Homo sapiens: one gene and its partners. The protein of the gene in region 3 purifies or fractionates together with the protein of the main gene of each other region. This does not show direct contact. Each region holds a gene or a part of one and is shown on either strand. Other genes may lie near its edges.

Region 1 (7,024 bases), on a different chromosome or scaffold from region 3:
TGTATTTTTGACACTCAGGGGAACAGGAGAATGACCTAGTTATTTTCCAAGTGTTAGCAATCTTTAGAGTGGTGCATCGTTGTGGACAGACTCTTCCTTGTTCCCAGTGGCTTGTCAATTTCTTTGGCTCCTTATCGGTGGAGGATTCTGTGGAGTGTCTGCATGCCATGCTGTCTGCTAACATCAGACAGAACCTTCAGCTGTGTGTGCAGGTGGCCTCTAAGTACCACGAGCAGCTGGGCACGCAGGCCCTGGTGGAGCTCTTTGAATCCTTCAAGAGTTACAAAGGTAAACCATGCAGCCTCTCGCCGACCCCACCATGTGACTACACCTCCTTTCTCAGGTGTTGCTGCCTACCTGCCCGCCTTAAGACGGCCTTCCTGCAAAGCCAGGCAGGATGCAGCACTGGCTGCCTTGGGTGCTCAGTCGGTGGCAGAATGCTACTGCCATCTCATGTGCACCCTCAGCTTCAGTAACCTTTTTGGTATTTCCAAAGGAAGAAATCAGGTTGGTTGGTGATGGGATGGAGAAACTTATGGAGCCCGGTGTGTCTACGCAGCACAGTCTGGCAAGAATTCATCTAAAAGCCTGTGTCGTGGGTACAGTGAAAGGGCCTGATGTCTGGTCTTTACAGCCCCAGGAGGGAGGCTCTTTGGGCCTCTCCTAAATGAGAGCCCACGATAGAGGGTGCATTGCTTTGTGGTGTCTGCTACCCAGTTGATTGTGGGGGGCTGACAAGGTAACCTGGTTGTCTTCCTTTCCCCTTCTTGGACATCACACCAAAAAAGTGTTCTAGGGCAGTTGGGATGGGAGTGGCTTTGTTAGGGACAGATGGGGGCTGTCTGGCCCACCCAGGATAGAGACTAAGCATTTGTCTAGGCATCAAGCCACTGCCATGTGTCCAGTGAGGTTGGGGCATCGGTGGAGGGTGGGACATGACCCTGTCCTCAGGGAACTGGCCTTCTCTTTAGAAGACACCCCTGTAGGAAAGACCATGGCAGACGATTGAGTGGAGCTGGGCTGGGAGAGGGCAGTAGAGTAGGTTGGTGGAGAACCGTCAGCCCAGGGGCTGCCCATTCCCTTCCTAGCATCAGGGTCTCACAGTTACAGTGAAAGACCTCGACAGGGAGGGGCCTTCTCAGATGTGTCGTACCCTGTTGTTACTGGTGCCTCCTGGCTGGCCTCTGTAATGATGAGGAACATCATTAGCCTCTGTGAATGCTGTCCTCTGGGGCTCACCCTGGGGCTCAGCATGTGGTGCCCATGTCACTGTCAGCTCTGTGTTGAGTTGCAGGCCTCCTCCTGGAGGCCATGGCTTATTTCTCTGTCCCTTGATGTGTCTTTTTAGAGAAGCAGTCCCACCACCATTTCAGATTACCTCAGTGGGAATTACTCTTGATGACGACTATCTAGGTATACCTGGGCCCACAAAAGGAATTTCACTTGTACCAAATATCTAGTATTTTACATCAAAACATGCCAGGTATACCTGCCAAATATAATGGAAATCCGACTAGCTATTTTTGGGAGCTGCCAAAACAGACAAATGGCATATTGATTATGAGTTCTGAGTGTGCTGTGGGTCCCTGGAGAGTGGAGCAGGGTCATCGAGGGAAGGTGGGCAGCAGCTACGGAGGAGACAGGCAGGTGTTACAAGGACAAAAATGGAATGGTCTCTCTTCATAGGCCTCTTCTACTTCCTGGGCTCAATCGTGAACTTCAGCCAAGACCCAGATGTGCATCTGAAATACATTCAGGCTGCCTGTAAGACAGGGCAGATCAAGGAGGTGGAGAGGATATGCCGAGAGAGCAGCTGCTACAACCCAGAGCGTGTGAAGAACTTCCTGAAGGTGTGTTCCAGTGCTGCCTCCTTCCATGAGCTGCCCTTGCTGATGGCAGGTGGGGCAGACCATCCGCAGGACGTCCCAGGGGCAGGAAGCTGGATCTGTCTCGCCAGGGACCCCTTAGTCCCAGGGACAGAGCTCCACTTTATGGCTTAAAGTTCTAAAGTAACCCTTCTATCGTTTTAAGAGTGTGGAAAGCAGCTTGAGGCTGTGCTCTAAGTATCTGGCACTTATTGCTGCATTGTAATTCATCAACATCCCATTAGTGCCATTGTCAATTAGGCAGGCAAAGCTGCAGAAACAAGTAGACCACTCAGCACTAGTGTCATAAAGAACAGGAAGCCTACTTCCTTATGTGGCAGTCCAGGGTAGGCTGGAGGTCAGTGGGGTGACTTTCCTTCCCACTGTACTTCAAGGACCAGCTTCATGGCTGCTTTGCCGTGTTCAGCACCTCACCTGGATGTCGTCTTCCCAGTCAGCTAGAGGAAGGGAAGAGCACAGAGGAACCAGCATAGGTGGTTTTTATGGGCGAGGCCTGCAAGTGGCAGATGACACTTGGATTCACGTTCCATTGGAGGAAATGAGGTCATGTGGCCACACTTAAAACTTCAAAATGTGATCTAGGCACGGGACCACATGAGGGGAGGCATGATTGTGGTGGCCTGTGGCTGTCCTACCCAAGTGCCATCATCATCTGGGAATGGTGGCCGGGTGTGTTTCCATGGCCTGCGGCTGCGTGTCTGAAAAGGCAGCCCTTACCGCAGGTGTGCTGTTCTTGAGAATGGCCTGGTTTCTGTTGGGTTTGCACATAATGAGCTGCTTGTCTTAAAAGATATTTTTGTCCAGATTTGGAATGTTAATGCCAAATGTAGCAGTCTTTAACCAAATACTAATATCTTTCTCTCACTTATTTCCCAAAGCAAATGCCATACCACAAAACGACAGCCTATTTAGAGCAGTCTCATTCTGAGTCTCCTGTGTGTCACTCTGCTGCAGAGACAGAGCCGTCCCATGTGTGCAATGAGTCCGAGGTCTGGCTGTCTGGTTTCTCCACTCCCTGACTTGTTCTGTGCATTCTAATCCTCAGGAGGCCAAGCTCACAGACCAGCTTCCCCTCATCATCGTGTGTGATCGTTTTGGCTTTGTCCATGACCTTGTCCTATATTTATACCGCAACAACCTGCAGAGGTACATTGAGATCTACGTGCAGAAGGTACTGCTGGCTCCCTGGAGTGACACCCGGCTGCCTCTGGGCCCCAGTCAGTGGCAGTCTTCCCCTCAGAGGCTGCCTGTAACACCTGACATTTCAGAGACTATCATTTTGAAGGGTGGTGGGTTCGTGTGCTCAGACTGCCAGAGTAGAAGACCACAGTCCAGGCAGCTGAAACAACACACATTTATTTCTCACAGTTTTGGAAGCTGGAAGTCCATGATCAGGGTGTCGGCAGGGCTGGTTTCTGGTGAAGGCTGTCTCCCACGCTTGCAGACAGCCTCCTGGCTGTGCCCTCACAGGGCCTTTCCTCTGTGCATGTGCACTCCTGGTGTCTCTTCCTCTTCTTAGAAGGACACTAGTCCCATTACATTAGGGCCCCACCCTTGACATTGATTACCTTCTTAAACACCCTCTTTCCAAGTAGAATCCCACTAGGGGTTAGGACATCAGCAGGTGAATTTTGGTGGGACACAGCGCAGTGCTAAACAGGAGCCCTTTCAGGGTTTTGCCCAAACTGTCCACGTCGTAGGAGGCTTCTAACAATAACTTGTGTTTGCAACACTGAAGTTACTTGACCTTGACTACCCTAGGTCAACCCTAGCCGGACCCCAGCTGTGATTGGAGGGCTGCTTGATGTGGATTGTTCTGAGGAAGTGATTAAACACTTAATCATGGCAGTGAGAGGACAGTTCTCTACTGATGAGTTGGTGGCTGAAGTAGAAAAAAGAAATAGGTAAGGTGTCCTTACTTGGTGTTTTCTCTTACCCCTGGATTCTAGTGTCTGTTGTTGTTTCTGTCTAATTCTCCAGGACTGTCTCTATAGCTGGTCGTTCATGTACACATCTTAGATGTAGCAATGAGTTACTTGCTATTGGTACTGTGAAGACCTTGGGGGAAAACCTAACAGTAGAAATCAGTTTGGAAACCAGGTCCATCTTGGTCCCTAGAGCAACCTGAAGTCAATGGACTCTGAGATTTTTTGTTTCAGGAAACATCTGTCAGAGCCCTGGAGTTGCCCTCAAGACTTCCAGTGGTAGCCTTGAGACTTTACAGCACCTTCCTTCTTTCAAAGGCTCAAGCTGCTGCTTCCCTGGCTGGAGTCCCAGATTCAGGAAGGCTGTGAGGAGCCTGCCACTCACAATGCACTGGCTAAAATCTACATCGACAGCAACAACAGCCCCGAGTGCTTCCTGAGAGAGAATGCCTACTATGACAGCAGCGTGGTGGGCCGCTACTGTGAGAAGCGAGACCCCCATCTGGCCTGTGTTGCCTATGAGCGGGGGCAGTGTGACCTTGAGCTCATCAAGGTGGGTAGCAGATGTGCTGAGCTGCCCATGTAACCCTGGGCTCCCAGGGAAGCTTTCAAAGGTGTGCCTGTGGGGAGCTGATCAGGGCTTTCTGTGCACCTGGAGATGGCAGGTCATGAGATTATTTCCTTGTGATTCTCACAGCTTTTGGGAACTTGCTCATGCAATTTGTATGCATTGTACCTGTAGACCAGTTGGTCCTGAACCTGACTTATCATCCCTCTGCTTACAGTCCTTACTATTGCCTGGCAATTTGAGGGCAGAATTGAACTCCTTGGCCTGACTCGTGAGCTCCTCTGTGGACTGCCACCTTTCCCAACTCCCGAACTTGATCAGCCATCCATCTTGCCACCCCACCTGGAGAGGCCTGCAATTCCCTGGGTGCCTCATGTCCCGAGTACCCTTGTACTTCATGCCCCCTTTTTGGGGTAACCCTCTACACAAGCCCTTCCCCATCACCTGACCAATGAGCTCTTGCTGGCCTCTCCTTGAGACATCTGCCCAGGTCTTTTGCCTGCATCTGCCCAGGCTTGGATCCACATATAATTACATGTTTAGGTTGAATTGTATGAACTGTTCCTACCTAATCATTTGATCTAAAAATCCAGACATGAATAGGGCACCTGTGAGGTTGGTGCCACACCAGCCTGCTTGGGCTTTTCCTGTGATACACAGGCGGACTGCGCTGCATCCGCAAGCACGTGTGCACGCCGCTCAGCCTTGTGCCGGGCATCTGGCACTCAACAGATCTGATCCTCACCAGGATTTAGCAAGTGCTGCACACGCTAGAACATTCCAGTGGACTGTTGGTGTTTTGGAGATCTGTTATAACATTCAGAAAAAGGTCTCCAGATCTACCAGTGAAAGCACAGTTTACAGTTTTTAGATCTTGAAACATTGCAGTGTTTGTGCTGTTTTATACCAGTTCTAGGCTGTTCTGATAACATTTTACAGATGGTTTAAAGCTAGCTACATATGAGTACTTAAATTTAACTAAATTAAAAATTACCAGTTTAGTTCCTGTCACGCACCACATTTCAAGGGCTCAGTAGCCTCCCATGGCTAGTGGCTGTATCAGACAGAATGGGAGACAGAGCATGTCCCTGAATGCAGGAAGTCCTACTGGCCAGATATGTGGCACATCCCTGGGAGTTGTTGTAAACTTGGAAAGGGCATTTTGAGGTAGTTTGAGTCCATCGTTAACCCTGTAGGATGCTGCTCATCCCATGTCAAAGCATAGCGTCTTGCCTGGGCCCTGACTGTCCACCAAACCAGTATCAGGCACACAGGGAACGAATTGGGGTGTGTCCTCCCAAGCAGCTTCCGCTGGTTGGCTGCTGTGTCACACACATGAGTGTGCTCATTTCAGGTGTGCAATGAGAATTCTCTGTTCAAAAGCGAGGCCCGCTACCTGGTATGCAGAAAGGATCCGGAGCTCTGGGCTCACGTCCTTGAGGAGACCAACCCATCCAGGAGACAGCTAATTGACCAGGTGAGGCACAGAGATGGGTATGTCTGCACACCTGCATTTTGCCGTCCGATCATCATTGTGGCTCAAGTGACTGGTTTCATTTTTAATTTAAAACATCTTGGCTGAGGGCAGTGGCTCACGCCTGTAATGCCAGCAATTTGGGAGGCGGAGGTGGGTGGATCACTTGAGGTCTCAGGAATTCAAGACCAGCCTGGCCAACGTGGTGAAACCCCATCTCCACTAAAAATACAAAAATTAGCCGCACATGGTGGCACACGCCTGTAATCCCAGCTACTTGGGAGGCTGAGGCAGGAGAATTGCTTGAACCCAGGGGGTGGAGGTTGCAGTGAGCCGACATCGTGCCACTGCACTCCAGCCTGGGCGACAGACAGAGACTCCATCTCAAAAAAATAAATAAATAGGCCAGGCATGGTGGCTCACGCCTGTAATCCTAGCACTTTGGGAGGCCGAGGCGGGTGGATGACTTGAGGTCAGGAGTTCAAGTCCAGCCTGGCCAACATAGTGAAACCCCATCTCTACTAAAAATACGAAAACACACTGTGTGGCGCATGCTTGTAATCCCAGCTACTCAGGAGGCTGAAGCAGGAGAATCGCTTGAACCCAGGAGGTGGAGGTTGCAGAAAGCCGAGACTGCACGCCACTGCACTCCAGCCTGGGCAACTGGGTGAGACTCTGTCTCAAAAAAATTAAATAAATAAATAAATAAATAAATAAATAAATAAATAAAACATCTTAGTCCTTACGAACCTTCTCCCCTGCAGAAATAGCTTGCCTAAAAATAGCTTGATTCCCCAGGGTAAGCTGACTTGGAACTGTTAACTGGCCAAGGGCATAGAGTTGGCCCTTGGATCCAAAGCAGGGATATGCAGCCCAGGAAGAGAGTACCTGGTGTCATGCCTGCATGCTGGGCCCAGCTCAGCCCTCGTGGACAGAGGTGAAGTAGCTTTCAAGGTTGTCTCAGCTGACTTCCCTTTGTTGAGGTGCTCTTTATGCCCCTGTGACTATCCAGCACCTCCTTGGAGACTGGGCAGAGTGCTGGGGCCAGGGGTCATTATTGGGTATGGCCTGGCAGGTGGGAGTCTGCCTCGGCCTCTGGGAGGGCTTCCCACAGCCCTGTGGAAGAGCCTCCTCTCCAGTTATAGCCTCACAGACATTTGCAGATAGTGCC
Region 2 (7,024 bases), on a different chromosome or scaffold from region 3:
ACACCCTCACGACTGCCCTAGGGCTGCCTGAGCACGCACGCCTCCCAGGCCCACATCAGCTCTTCCCTAAACCTGGACGGCGCGTCTCCACTGCAGCTCCCAGTACCGGGGAGGCAAAGCCCACAGCCAGAATTCCAAGTCTCAATCCTCTGGGTGACCCGGCAGCATGGACTCATAGTAAATAGCAACATTTGTAACTGGACTGTTTTACAAAGAATGCTGCTTGCCTCGAGTATTTTGAGAAAGTGCACATATGAAAGCCTCCACTACAGGGCACCGTTCATGTGGTCCCACGCTGTGAGTGCCCTCAGCCCTCACCTCTCCTCCACGGTGACAGCTGGTGTCACAGCCAATGAGCAACACCACCAGTGCTCTCAGCCAAAAAGTGCACACCACCACGTGCCTCCCAGAGCTGTGTGTTCCCAACAGCGTGGCTGCTCCCCTGGGGCCTCTCTTCCGGCCAGTGCTGAGTTTGTGGGACCAGTTTTGACCCTGATGAATGACCAAAGGCGTGCAAGAGACAGTCCTGTTCCCAGCATTGTGGAGAGAGGAGGAACCGCCTGCCGAAGGTGAAATGCACATCTGAGAGGTGCGTAAGGAGACCGCAGGGACACGCTCTGGGAAACAGGGCAAAGCCAACAGGGATTTGGGATTAGCAGAAGTCCTGTGGCATCAAGCAGCCCGACAGCCAGGAGACCAGCCAACACTTGTGCCAACGTGGTCAGGAGAGACATGGCAGACGCATGTCCTGGCTCCAGGCATTCAGGCAGAAGGGAAGCAAACACTACTGAACACACCTCCACATGACCTGGGCCGTAGGGTGTCCCTGCAGAACCCACCCAATCACAGCTCGCATTTCTTTTCTTTCTTTCTTTCTTTTTTTTTTTTTTGAGACAGTCTCGTTCTGTCGCCCAGGCTGGAGTGCAGTGACACCATCTCGGCTCACTACAACCTCTGCCTCCTGGCTCAAGTGATTCTCCTGCCTCAGCTTCCCAAGTAGCTGGGATTACAGGCATGCGCCACCATGCCTGGCTAATTTTTCTATTTTTAGTAGAGACAGGGTTTCACCATGTTGACCAGGCTGCTCTCGAACTCCTGACCTCAGGTGATCTGCTCACCTCGGCCTCCCAAAGTGCTAGGATTACAGGAGTTAGCCACCGTGCCCAGCTCACAGCTCCCATCTCTACAAACTCAGCTCTCTGCTGTTGAAACCTACACTGAGGTCTCCAGCTGTGGCTTCTCCTCTGAGCTCTCAGCCTGCTCCACCCCTCAGCTGCAGCCTAAGTGGCCTCTCACCCTCACTACTTCCAAAATGGGGCCGTGGACTCTGCCCGCTGCCTCTTCCAGCCCTCCTGTCACATGAGTGGCAGCACCCAGGTTCCGCCAGAACCTCAGGGACACTCGAGTCCCTCTCTGCACTGCCACATGAGCCCTAAGCTACCAGAACGTCAGGCAGACCGCAGCGCTCCAGCCTCCTTCCCCAGCACTAGCTTCCTCCCCAACACAGTGAGGGCCAGGTCCGCATTACCCTCCCCACCACTCTTCGGCCCAGAGACTCTGCTCTTCCCTCTGTGGAGGGACCTTCTGAAGGTCAAGTCGCTCTGCTCTGATCTCTCCTATGCACGTCCTCCTGCACTGACGGTACTCCAGGGTCCGCTCTGGTCACGCGGCGCTCTGGGAGCCGGCCTCGGGCTGCCCCTCCATCTTCATCTCTTCTTACCCTGCCCCTCGGTCACTGACTGGCTGAGGTTGCTAGTTTTTGTTCAACAGCAACTTTCCTCTTCTCAGTAAGAAATTTCAGCTGTGTGCGGAATAAAGACAACGTGTCCTAGCATCCTGTGCAGGGAAGCGTCGTACTCAATGGGACACAAACGGAGTCACAGGGACAACTTGCAGTGAGGGTCCTTGAAAGGTGGGGATTTGCTCTTCTTCACCTAGAAGAAGGCTTCCTGCCGGGAGGTATGAGGGCCAGAGCCGGTGCAGCCACACTAGACCATGAGGATGAGAAGCTCATCACGGCAGCACAGGATGGAGTAAGCCTGGGTCCCTGACACCAAGGAGTACTGACCAGCTGTCGCACGTCTACGCAGAATCCCGACCGCAGCGGCTGCACTCCCACCCTCCGGCCCCCATGCTGCTCCCAGAGCACGTCCCACGCCTTCCTGCCCCAGGACCTCTGCACTCCTGCCGTTGCCTCTGCCTGGAGTGCTCCCCCTTGCACTTTCCTACCGGCTGCCTCAGTCTCCTGGTTCAGATCTCAGTCCCGTGTCACCTCCTGACCATCTTTGCCAAAGAACCACCCGATGCAAATTCCTCCCCAAACATGCCAGCTCCAGGACACCATCTTCCCTTAGTCCCTTTGTTGTGCTAGGATCTGCAGGCCTGCTCATCTGATAACATTTCGTATCTTTTCCTATTAAACAGAAATTCTGTGAGAGTAGGTCTGTCTTATCATGATGTCCCTTGTCCCCCAAAGCATTCCAGCACAGAGAAGACACTCAGCAGAACAGCTTGTTCCTACAGCAGGACTCAGAATGCAGTTTCTGGGAGTTGCAGGCTGCCTGTGCTGGCCGGCACTGCCAGAACTTAAAATCCTCAAGCACCCAGAGGGCAGATCTGCCTGACAGAGGAGGCCAGGACGCTCCTCTCACCTTAAGTCAGCTCTGAGAACTTTCTGCATTGCACACAATTGTTCAAGAAATTCATGAAAACTTTACAAACACCCACCCACTAATGGCCAGACACCTGCTGGGGCCAGTGGCCTCACTGACTGGAGAAGGCAGTGGCTGGAGCTCAGGAGGCTGAGGTGGCTGCAATCTGAGGGCCAGAAACTAGAGAGGAGGGGGCTACTCCGACAGAACGAGCTCTAGGAACCCAAGGGAATCTCGAGTCTCTGGCTGAGCACCAGGCAGTGCACAGGTGCAGGGCAGGAGTCCTCAAGGTCAAGAGAAGAGCAACTACCAGGGAGCAACGAGCGGAGCTCACAGGGCCGAGAAACCGCCGTCTTACCAGGGAGCAACGAGCGGAGCTCACAGGGCCGAGAAGGTGTCATCTTGCAGCAGCAGGAGTGCAGGGGTCTCGCGGGCCTTGCGGGACACACGGGTGTGCAGCAGAGGCCTTGGGAAGGACGCCGGTGGCGGGAGGCGGAAAGGCTATGCTAGACCCACCACTTCAAAGCATAAAAAGCCTCGGAAGGATGATCTGCACCTTAACTGCCTGCCAAGCCCAACCCAACTCCTCAGAGAAAGACAACAAAATCCAGACATTCAAAAGTGTACACCTGACAATATCCAACAACCAAGAAAAACTTGTGAAAAATGTAGAGGCAGGAAAATGAGGCCAAAACCCGGAAACAAAATTAGTCAGTCGAAACAGACCCCAAAATGATGGGGAAGATGGTATGAGAAGAATCGTAGACCCTAAAACCATTATCAATTTGCTCACGAGGATGTAAAAGAAAACCCAAGTACCATGAGAAGAAATAAGGGGAAACTATTATGTTAGAAACAAAGTTAACTGGATGGGCTTCACAGCTGTTAGGCACTGCAGAAGAAATGATATCTGACAACAGAAACTACCCAAACTGTAGCTCAAGGAAAAAGGCTGGGCCGGGCACGGTGGCTCACACCTATAATCCCAGCAGTTTGAGAGGCCGAGATGGGTGGGTCACTTGAGGTCAGGAGTTCCAGACCAGCCTGGCCAACATGGCGAAACCCCGTCTCTACCAAAAATACAAAAAAAAAATTAGCCGGGTGTGGTGGTGGGCACCTGTAATCCCAGCTACTCGGGAGGCTGAGGCAGGAGAATTGCTTGAACTCGGTAGGTGGAGGTTACAGTGCGCTGAGATCGCGCCACTGCATTCCACCCTGGGTGACAGAGCGAGACTCCGTCTCAAAAAACAAAAAACAAAAAAAAAGAAAGAAAGAAAAGAAAAAAGATAAGAAAAAGAAAAAAGGCTGAAATAAAAAAAAGAACAGAGCTTCGGTGTCCTGTGAGACAACGTCAAGAGGCCTGAAATAGATGTGATTAGAGTCCTAGGAAATAAAGTGGAAAGAGGAAAAGATAGCTGAAGAAATAATGGCCAACGTTTTCCAAATTTGCTGAAAAAAACCAACCCACAGATCAAAGAAGCTTAAGAAACCCTCAGCGGGATAAAGGCAAAGAAAGCCACCTCAAAGCACATAATAATCAAATTCCCGACAGTAACACTAAAGAGAAAACCTTACAAGCAGCCTACGAGCATTGGGGTGTCACACACACAGGAACGAACGTAAGACATTCAGGGAGCCTCCAGTGACCCCCCAAAACAACGTGGGCGAGAAGACAGCGGGTCACACCTGAAAGCACTGTTGGAGGAAAGAACTAAAAACACCATCAATGCCATCAATAATTGTTTAAAACTTTAAATGCAATTTCTTCAGTATTTTTTAAAGACACATTAAAATGTATCTATTACTCACCAATAGAAAACTTAGGAATTTTAAATTGATTTGTAGGAGTAGGCATAACCTTTGTCTTGGAATTTAGACAGGAATCTCGCCGTCTGATACTTCTAGTCTTATTCAATTGAGAAGATTCTGACCAAGCGCAACTGGAGTTCAGCCACTGGCCGCCACCTTCCGGAGTCTGGGGTTGGGTGGGGGATGCTGAGGGGGGTGCCGTGAGCTGCTCCGCTGCCAGCTCAGAAACATCGACCCGCTTGGCCTGCCAGGAGGATGCCCCCACAGGGCCTGCAGGCAGAGCTGGCCGCAGCATGGCGGGTCCCATTCTGCCTGACTTGCTGATGTTTGACAGAGGCCGGGAGCTATTTGCAGGAATACTTGCAAATTCACTTGATTTAGCTAGAAGGTATACACACAAAAATCACATTATTATAAAAGTATGAAGCTATTTAACAAACACACAGAAGTTATGCTGTCTTTAGCATATCTACCTTAAACATAAGACACATTAACAATATTCTATAAGCCCTTCAGGCAACATCATCAAACACAGGATGGCTCAGGCAGCTTTTAGCTTAGCTGAGTGTATTCTAAGGTACTTATTCTCAAAATAATTACTAACATGTACATAAGCATGCATAAATTCAAGCTCTCCTATCTTCGTTGATTATGTTGGCAGGAGAAATCTACATTAGTTGAGCAGATGGAAGGGGATAGTCTAGTCACATGTCTCACCTGTCTGGTCACAGAGGTGGGCAGGGAACAAGGAAAAAAGACGCAATTGTTACTGGTTGATTCCTTTAAAATTACAAGGAGGCTGCGTCATATTAACCATAAGCACTATTTAAAATAGAAGACCAGATAAACTAGGGTAATACATACTGAGCTACCAATATACGCAGACGATCTGGTAAAGGATTCTTAAAGAAAAACTTTAGCCCAGGAGTGGTGGCTCACGCCTGTAATCCAAACACTTTGGGAGGCCAAGGCAAGAGATCACTCAAGGCCAGGAGTTCGAGACCAGCCTGGCTAATATAGTGAGACCATCCTCTCTACAAAAAACACAAAAATGTGGGCCAGGCGCAGTGGCTCGTGCCTGTAATCCTAGCACTTTGGGAGGCCAAGGCGGGCGGATCACGAGGTCAAGAGATCGAGACCATCCTAGCCAACATGGTGAAACCCCGTCACTACTAAAAATACAAAAATTAGCCGGGCGTGGTGGCAGGTGCCTGTAGTCCCAGCTACTTGGGAGGCTGAGGCAGGAGAATCACTCGAACCCGGGAGGCAGAGGTTGTAGTGAGCCAAGATTGCGCCACTGCACTCCAACCTGGCAATAGAGTGAGACTCCATCTCAAAAAAAAAAAACCCACAAAAATTAGCCGGGTGTGGTGGCATGTGCCTGTAGTCCCAGCTACTCAGGAGGCTGAGGTGGGAGGATTGCTTGATCTCAGGAGGTCATCACCTCAGTCTATAAAGATAAGGACACAAACCTCTCTTAATCACAGAATGGCAGAGTCAGAATTCCAGATCAGATCAATCTGATTAGAGAGTTCACACTTATCATTTTTTTTTTTTTTTTTGAGACGGAGTGCAGTGATGCAATCTCGGCTCATGGTAACCTCTGCCTCCCGCGTTCAAGCCATTCTCGTGGCCCAGTCTCCCGAGTAGCTGGGACTACAGGCACCCGCCACCATGCCCGGCTAGTTTTTGTGTTTTTAGTAGAGACAGGGTTTCACCATGTTGGCCAGGCTGGTCTCAAACTCCAGGGGTCAAGCGATCCACCCATCTTGGCCTGCCAAAGTGCTGGGATCACAGGCGTGAGCCCCTGCGCCCGGCCCACTTTTTACATTTTGTGAACACAATCCACACCATGCTGCCCTGAACGACCCCGAGACGCCACATGGCCAATGCACCTCGAAGAGGATTTCGCTCTGAAGAGCAGAAAGGCGAAGGCTTTCCCTTACCACTAGATGGCAGCTGTGGCTTGGCAAGGTTGAAATGTGGCTTGACCTCAAACAGGTGTGGGAGCATGGATTTAAACAGGCACCCAGGAGTTATGGGGCCATATGCCCTACATTATCTGGAATAGTCCTATTTTAAAACTGGTGTCTCATGACATGGACATGAGGGTGATTCCAGTGTCCATGTTCTCAGGCACGGGGTATCATACATGCTTTCTGGCCATGTGTACCCCGTAGACTGAAGCCACCCATCTGAGTGTGCCCTCCTCATGGGACAGAGGCACTGAGGGCAGGTACAGCAACTCAGTCCACAGCCTGGTCCACCGCACACAGCACGCCCTCCGGGACGTCCTGCCAAGCCTAAGTGGTTCTGCAGAAACAGTCTCCAAGGCCTGAGCAGCACTCCAGGCCTCACCTGGCCAGATGTGGGTCCAAGCATGATGCCGGCTGCCTCACCTTTGCCCACTGCTGGGGATGTGCACGCACTGGATGCCCCGCTCCAAACAGGCCCCGAGGAGGACTTCCTTGCGAGATTGCTGGTAGAGCCGGGTGCTTTTAACAGGGTCTTCTTCAGCCCCAACTGGGGCAAAATGTGAAAAAACAGAATCAGCAAAGATCTCG
Region 3 (7,024 bases):
GCTTGTTCTTTGTGTCTCTTGAGTATGCTTAGAGGCAAGATTTAGCTGGTCTTAGTACTGCTGTAGTATTTTTCATGTTACAGAACCCAAATTTATCTTTTCTGTTTTACCAAGCTCTAGCAGTTTTTCTTCTCCATGGAGAGAGTCTACTTTGGTGTCTGGAAAGATTTAATTTTTCAATTATGAAATTGGGTACTTGGGGAATACTCTTATGAGCTGTTTTCTTAATTCAAAGTGCTTTTTTTGAGAGAAGTACAACATTTGGCCTTGCATTCCAACTGAATTGAATTCACTTGGTTCATGAACAAGGTGTTCCTTCAATTTCACCTTTTTTCCTTGCAAAAACTGTGAGAAAGCACGCGATGCTAAAAATAGAGAACCGGTGCCAGTGGTTTTCAGCCTAGCTGCTGGCTACATTCTCAAGTAATTTTCTTTTCTCTGACCAGTAACGAGGGTGGCCAGAAGGGAAGGCACCTGTGAATGTGCTTTGCTCTCTAAGGGGACTCTTCCTCTTCATCCTCTGAGGGGAAGAATTCTAAATTAGTATTGCAGTGGCACTAAAGCTGCAAAAGCCAGAAGACCAATTTAAATGTACTATTTTATGCAGTAACCACAGTCTGTTCAGGAGGTCACCATTTTTATTTAATTTCATTTTTCAGAGATAAATTTTATATTTTAGTCCTAATGTATAGTAAATGTTAACATCAAAATACATTGAAAGAAAATACTGTCCAATCAAAAAGGTAATTATTTGGAAGTAATTTCACCATGATTGAAAAGGGGGCCTTACATTTTGAATTAGGTATTGTCACATGGCACTTCCAGCCCACAGCTTCTCATTGCAGCATAGCTAAATCTTGCATTCCACATCTGTACTTCATGCCATGGATAGACACATATTAGATGTTTACTGTAGAGGCTAGGTGGTGTGGCTCAGGTCTGTAATCCCAGCACTTTAGGAGGCTGAGGTGGGAGGATCACTTGAGCTCAGGAGTTCAAGACCAGCCTGGGCACCATAGTGAGACCCTATCTCTACTAAAAAAAAAAAATTAGCTGGGGGTTGTGGTGCACGCTTGTGGTCCCAGCTGCTTAGGAGATTGAGGTGGGAGGATCACTTGAGCCTGGGAGATTGAGGCTGCAGTGAGCTGTGATAGAACTACTGCAGTACAGCCTGGGCTACAGAGCGAGACCCTATCTCAAATAAAACAAAAAAAAGTTTACTGTATATACTTTAGAGTCATCAGTGAAAAATCTGAGAAAATGATTCTTCTGAACGACAGATCACCTTCCGACAAATTAGATACCGAGATGAACGTTCCTACTAACCTGAAACTTGGGGGAGTTTCTAGCTGCTATTAGGCTTTTTCTTATAGTTACACACAGCCTTTTGCAGGTTGTTACTATAAGACCTTTCTTGCAAAGGCCCTAAAAATGCCCAAGAATACTTCATTTTTCATCCCTTCTAGTAGTTACTTGACACCGCTACTGCTATCTACTCTCCTTCTCAAAGACACTAATTACAGTTTGGGCTCTTGGTCTGCACTTTCAAAACTCTGTCCAGATCACTGGTGGTCACGTTTTGTGATTATTTCTAGGCTTGCCTCCCTTTCTGTCCCTCCCTTTGGAGGAAGCATAATGAGGTAAGCAAAGTGTAAGCTTTACAGCCAGATCTGGGTTTGAATCTTGGCTCTGTCACTTACTATAACCTTTAGGAAATTCACTCAAACTTTCTGAGCTTTAGTTTTTCTCACTGCTGAAAATGTGATCAGAGTTTACCTTCTTGGGATTGTTGTAAAGATTGAGTTAGATGTCTATAAAACACCTGCCAGACAGAAGAACTTGTTTAAAGTGAAGTATCAGGTTAACTTCAAGTGTCAGCTGCCTCAGTAGCTATGACATGTATTTCTTTTTTTTTTTTTTCTTTTTTGAGACAGAGTCTCACTTTGTTGCCTAGGCTGGAGTGCAGTGGTGCGATCTCAGCTCACTGCAACCTCTGCCTCCCAGATTCAAGCGATTCTCCTGCCTCAGCCTCCCCAGTAATCCCCAGTAGCTGGGATTATAGGCATGCACCACCACATCCAGCTAATTTTTTGTATTTTTAGTAGAGACGGGATTTTACCATGTTGGCCAGGCTGGTCTCGAACTCCTAACCTCAGATGATCCACCTGCCTCGGCCTCCCAAAGTGTTGGGATTACAGGCGTGAGCCACCACAAGCAGCCGGCATGTATTTCTTTATCTCTCACTATCTACTGATGTATGTCTCTTCAGCTTAGTGTCTTAGAGAAAACCATATTTAGTCCTCAGAAACTTCATGTTTCATGTTTGAGAATCCAATCTAGCAAACCTGCTAGGTATGCATTTTCTTGCTGTCATTTCTAGAACCTTTAGGTTAACTGTTAGCAATGATCCCATACCTCTACCCCCTGCACTTCTCTCCAGTGGAGTTTCTTTTGTAGCTCTGCCCTGGCTCTGCCACAAACACACTGCAGACCAAGTAGGAGTAGATGCTTTGTGGTCCTCTCTAGTGCTAATATTCTGTGTTCTATCATTCTCTGGTTCCTGAATCATCTCTACCTTTGGTAATTGTCCTAATAGCACCCTGCCTCACAGAAGTGCTTCTACCATATTTAGTTATGAGAGTGCCACCTTGTGTTCCACAAAACCATTGTCAAACCTGGAATATGGACTAGTTTGGGAGAAGAGGTAAAAGATTAAGATGAATACCCTACTATGAACTAATATTGGCAGCATTGGTAAAGAATCATCTATAATTGTTTCTCCCCCAATTGGTGCCCAGAAGGCTTTTTTCCTATTAATAATAGAAGTCAGTATTTCCACATACACCCTTCTCTTTTGCTCTGCCCAAAACAAGACAAAACAAAACTAATGACCCACTAAGATGTCAGTGGACTGGGATAAGACCAGGAATAGGACTGTGGGAAAGACCAGGCAGGAATAGAAGCACTGAAATCAGAGTTGGTTGTGCAAACAGAGAAAACAGAAGTTTATCTTCCCCTCTCTACTCTTCTCCCCCAACAGGCACACAGACATGGACCTGCACCCACCACAAGTTCAGCAAGACCAAAATAAACTGATGAACTTCAGTTTGCACTTTGCCTCAATTGTATTGTCTTTCTCTTCTCTCCCTTCAAAGATGCCAATTCTCGGAAGCAAGAAGCAGAGTGGAAAGAAAAGGCAATAAAGGAGCTAGAAGAATGGTATGCAAGACAGGACGAGCAGCTACAGAAAACAAAAGCAAACAACAGGTCAGTCCGTGGTGGTTGTAGCACACTTTGTTTTCCAAAATTGAATCAAATCCATTCTCAGCATCCAGTCTCGGTTTTTGGCTTCTGCCTCCTTTAGTGTGAAATGTCTGCAGTTTTTAAAGAAAGTGCTTGAAACAGGTTGCAAGTCTCTCGGGTCTTGTGAGCATAATTCACCCTATTGTTTAGCCATCCCAATTGTAGTGAGCTTAGCTCTCTGAGAGTTTGGTTAATATGCATAACCTGTAATGGTGTGATTCAGCCAAGGGAAAAGTTACTTTCCATGGAACCCTGAAACGAAAGCTGGGTGTCATGAATACACCCAGATCTAGTTACTTTGGATATGATTATAGACTTGGTCATGTTGAGTCTCCTCAATATAGCCCTGCCCCCTGAAAGCCACTTCATGAAGGGGTCCGTTGGCAGGAATATGTGCTTTGTAATTAGGCAGCCAAGGATGTTCCAACATGATTATTTTAGAATTGAGGGTTCTGTGGGTACTTATTTGTGCCTTAAAAAGTCTTGAATTGACTTCTTAAAAATGTTCTGTTTGAAATAGATTTTATTTAGTTACTGATGGTTAAGGAGTTGTGAGGAGAAAAACGCTTTCATTCTCATATCACTACTCACCAGCAGCTGGGCTTTAATGCCCTACACTTAGAGCCCTTCTTGGAAGCAGCAAAGAGAGGATATGTGGTGTTGCTTCCCTCAGGGCAGGCAGGTTCAGAGCCCAACTTTCACTGAATAGTCAATCCATTCACTTCAGTGTATAAACGGGCCAGACCGAGCCTGGGGATATTTTTAATTTTCAGGGTAGAGCCTTGGGTTCTCGTATGCAGAGGCAGGAAGCAGGTTGGGTTAAGTGCCCTTGTCTCTGGCAGCTCTGTTAGACAGAGATGTGGCAGGAGAGAGAGCTAACGGCTTTGCCAGCCAGCCAGTGCTATTGTGGGTCCAGTATGACAGAGCAGTTGGACTCTCTTTTATATGCTAGCAGCCCTTCAGCTCATTGGATTCCGGCTTGAGCCTGTGTCCTGGTCACTTTCCTCTGGGGGCGGTGTGCTCAAGGAGTGCCTGTCAGGTTCCATGTGGAGTCCACAGGACTCCACAGTCCCAGTCCCACAGGACTGCTCTCTGGTGTGCAGGCTGGGTTGCCAGTGGTGATGGCTTCCATCAGCTACGTGGGGCTGTTGTTGAGCCTGTGGTCAGTAGGTGGTGCTGACAGGTCCAGGCTCCTGTGTCCTCTGCTCCCTCAAGATGATTTTCTCCCAGGTGGAAGTTCAGATCGGTAAAGCCGAGTGGGGACTGTGTGCAAGCACCCTGCGAGCCCTGAGAACTCCCCCAGCCTGCGACCCCAGCATTTAAGTTTAGTCTGAAGTACTGTAGCTGTGCCGACCCTCCCCGCTCTGGGTCTGTGATGCGTCAATAACTTAACACAAGTTTTCAAACTTAGATAATGAATATGTTGGTAACAGCCTTTCTGTTGCAGAAATTTTTTTCAAGGAAGTTTTGCTGAACTGTCAAGAAAGGGATATTCTCTGTATACAGAATCCGTTGTTCTCAGAGGGAGTAATGACACCTGTTTTTTTTTTTTTTTTTTTTTTGAGATGGAGTCTTGCTCTGTTGCCCAGGCTGGAGTGCGGTGGTGCGATCTCGGCTCACTGCAAGCTCCACCTCCTGGATTCACGCCATTCTCCTGCCTCAGCCTCCCGAGTAGCTGGGACTACAGGTGCCCGCCACCATGCCCAGCTAATTTTTTTCTGTTTTTAGTAGAAACAAGGTTTCACTGTGTTAGCCAGGATGGTCTCGATCTCCTGACCTCGTGATCTGCCTTCCTTGGCCTCCCAAAGTGCTGGGATTACAGGCGTGAGCCACCGCGCCTGGCCATGACACCTGTTTTTAGGAGCTCAGTCTTAAAAGTTTAGTCCCTCCAGGCATTGAATTTGGGCCTTGGTACCTTTCTGTACTTGGAACTGTAGAATGCTGGGTAAGCTGGTCTCACAGATGAACCTCTTAAGTTCCAGAGAGAAGGAACTTCCCCACTGCTCACTGAGAATGTAGAGCTGCTTAGGAAGCAGGTCACTTGCCTTGTGGGAACCTTGCAGCACAGGGCTGACTCTTGAGAGCATAACGCTAGTGGCACACTAGCCATTGTCACCAGGGCTCTAGGACAGAAGAGATGGTTTTTACAGTTTATTCCAGTGATTCTTCACTGGTTGGAGGTGGGATCCATTTGAGAGTCACTTTGGGGGACTTCTTCCAAGGGTCTACACCCTCCCCTGGAGATTTTTATATTGCTGACTACTCCCCCTCTCCATCCATGTTTGACTCTAAACTTTAGAGTTCAAAGGAATAGGTCCCATTTAGATGTATAAAGTAATTCATCCTTGTTATCTGTCTATGGGTAAAGAGTGAATATTTTTAGAAAAGAAAATGGGGGCCGGACACCGTGACTCAACATCTGTAATTCCAGCACATTGGGAGGCTGAGGCGGGCAGATCACTTGAGGTCAGGAGTTTGAGACCAGCCTGCCCAACATGGTGAAACCCCATCTCTACTAAAAATGCGAAAATTAACTGGGTGTGGTGGTGTGTGCCTGTAATCCCAGCAACTCGGGAGTCTGAGGCAGGAGAATCACTAGAACCCGGGAGGCAGAGGTTGCAGTGAGCTGAGATTGCGCCACTGCACTCCAGCCTGGGCAACAGAGCGAGACTCAGTCTGAAAAAAAGAAAAGAAAAAAGAAAACGGGGTGCTCATTTCAAGCAAGTATGATTCTCTCTGGGTGACTTCTGCAGTAGCTAGATGTTAAGGGGACCCGAGAGATAAGGCAGAAAGATGAGAAGTTTGAAAGAGGAAAGTCGGAGACAGGAAGGGCATCCAGTTAATTGTGAGAGCATCCTCAGGCCTCCTGCCTTCCAGCTGCCTCACCACTGGGTCACCAAAGCACTAGGAGCACGTCGCGCCTGGCACTGCACTGGGGGTGGGTGTGCTGTACTCTATTGTCAGTCCCCAGACTGCATCTCCCTTCTTTTATCCCAAGTTGAGGCCTAAGTGTCACAGTACAAGAGCTGTGAATTATTCAGTGACAGCCATGGAAAAGAATTTCCTTTTCATAGCCAGCCAGCCAGAGCAGTGACTGACTCCTGCAGCTGGATGAGTTTGCTCATCAAGAACAACCCCAGAACATTTCCCCTATTACAGGTAGCACTTGTGCTTGTCAGCTCTTTCAAGGCTTGAGAAGGTTTGGGGAACCCACAGTTCTCAGAGATGGCAAACATTTTTTTCTGTGCCCACTTTGAGGCTGTTTATGGAATGAAGTTCTGCATTGTATTCGTGCCTCCAGAGCTTGTCCTAGGTCAGGTATTCCTCTTCCCTCCCCTCTCCTAAGCCTCCCTGAGCCCCTTCCTGCCTTGGCTGAGGATTGCTACTTTCAAGTGAAGGACAAATAAGGGGAGGGCCACCTGTGTGTGTGTCTGATTTTCTGTTTGTTCTGGGCCTGCAACCTTGACAGGGGATGTGCTTGTCACTGAGGAGCTCTTTGGTCTTGGGCTAGCTGCAAAGGAGCAAGAGCCTGACATTCAAACTTTTGTTGTCTTAGTGATGATTTGACAGGAGTCATGAAACCTCTACTCTTCTTGTGGAGGGAAACCCAAGTTGAAATCGATCAGGTTTAGTCCTTTGTGTAAACTAAAAGGGTTATGGGTTTATAAGCCAGCCTGCCTTGCCTTTTCCTCCCACTCATTCTGCCCACAAACAACTCTGT

The links. Proteins that work in one complex are often made in the same cells at the same time.
Region 1: the proteins of CLTA (region 3) and CLTCL1 purify together in Homo sapiens (co-immunoprecipitation; 3 studies listed by BioGRID and IntAct, with this or other methods). This does not show direct contact.
Region 2: the proteins of CLTA (region 3) and GTSE1 purify together in Homo sapiens (affinity purification with mass spectrometry; 2 studies listed by BioGRID and IntAct, with this or other methods). This does not show direct contact.

Annotation. Positions count from the first base shown.
Region 1 is NC_000022.11:19,218,717-19,225,740, reverse strand, and holds part of CLTCL1 (clathrin heavy chain 2), read left to right. Parts: intron 1-107; coding exon 108-288; intron 289-1,686; coding exon 1,687-1,850; intron 1,851-2,931; coding exon 2,932-3,057; intron 3,058-3,647; coding exon 3,648-3,790; intron 3,791-4,129; coding exon 4,130-4,364; intron 4,365-5,733; coding exon 5,734-5,856; intron 5,857-7,024. UniProt on the Homo sapiens protein: Clathrin is the major protein of the polyhedral coat of coated pits and vesicles. Two different adapter protein complexes link the clathrin lattice either to the plasma membrane or to the trans-Golgi network.
Region 2 is NC_000022.11:46,313,849-46,320,872, reverse strand, and holds part of GTSE1 (G2 and S phase-expressed protein 1), read right to left. Parts: intron 6,984-7,024; coding exon 6,860-6,983; intron 4,842-6,859; coding exon 4,461-4,841; intron 4,363-4,460; exon of another isoform or gene 3,010-4,362; intron 1-3,009. UniProt on the Homo sapiens protein: May be involved in p53-induced cell cycle arrest in G2/M phase by interfering with microtubule rearrangements that are required to enter mitosis. Overexpression delays G2/M phase progression.
Region 3 is NC_000009.12:36,200,913-36,207,936, forward strand, and holds part of CLTA (clathrin light chain A), read left to right. Parts: intron 1-3,155; coding exon 3,156-3,267; intron 3,268-3,808; exon of another isoform or gene 3,809-7,024. UniProt on the Homo sapiens protein: Clathrin is the major protein of the polyhedral coat of coated pits and vesicles.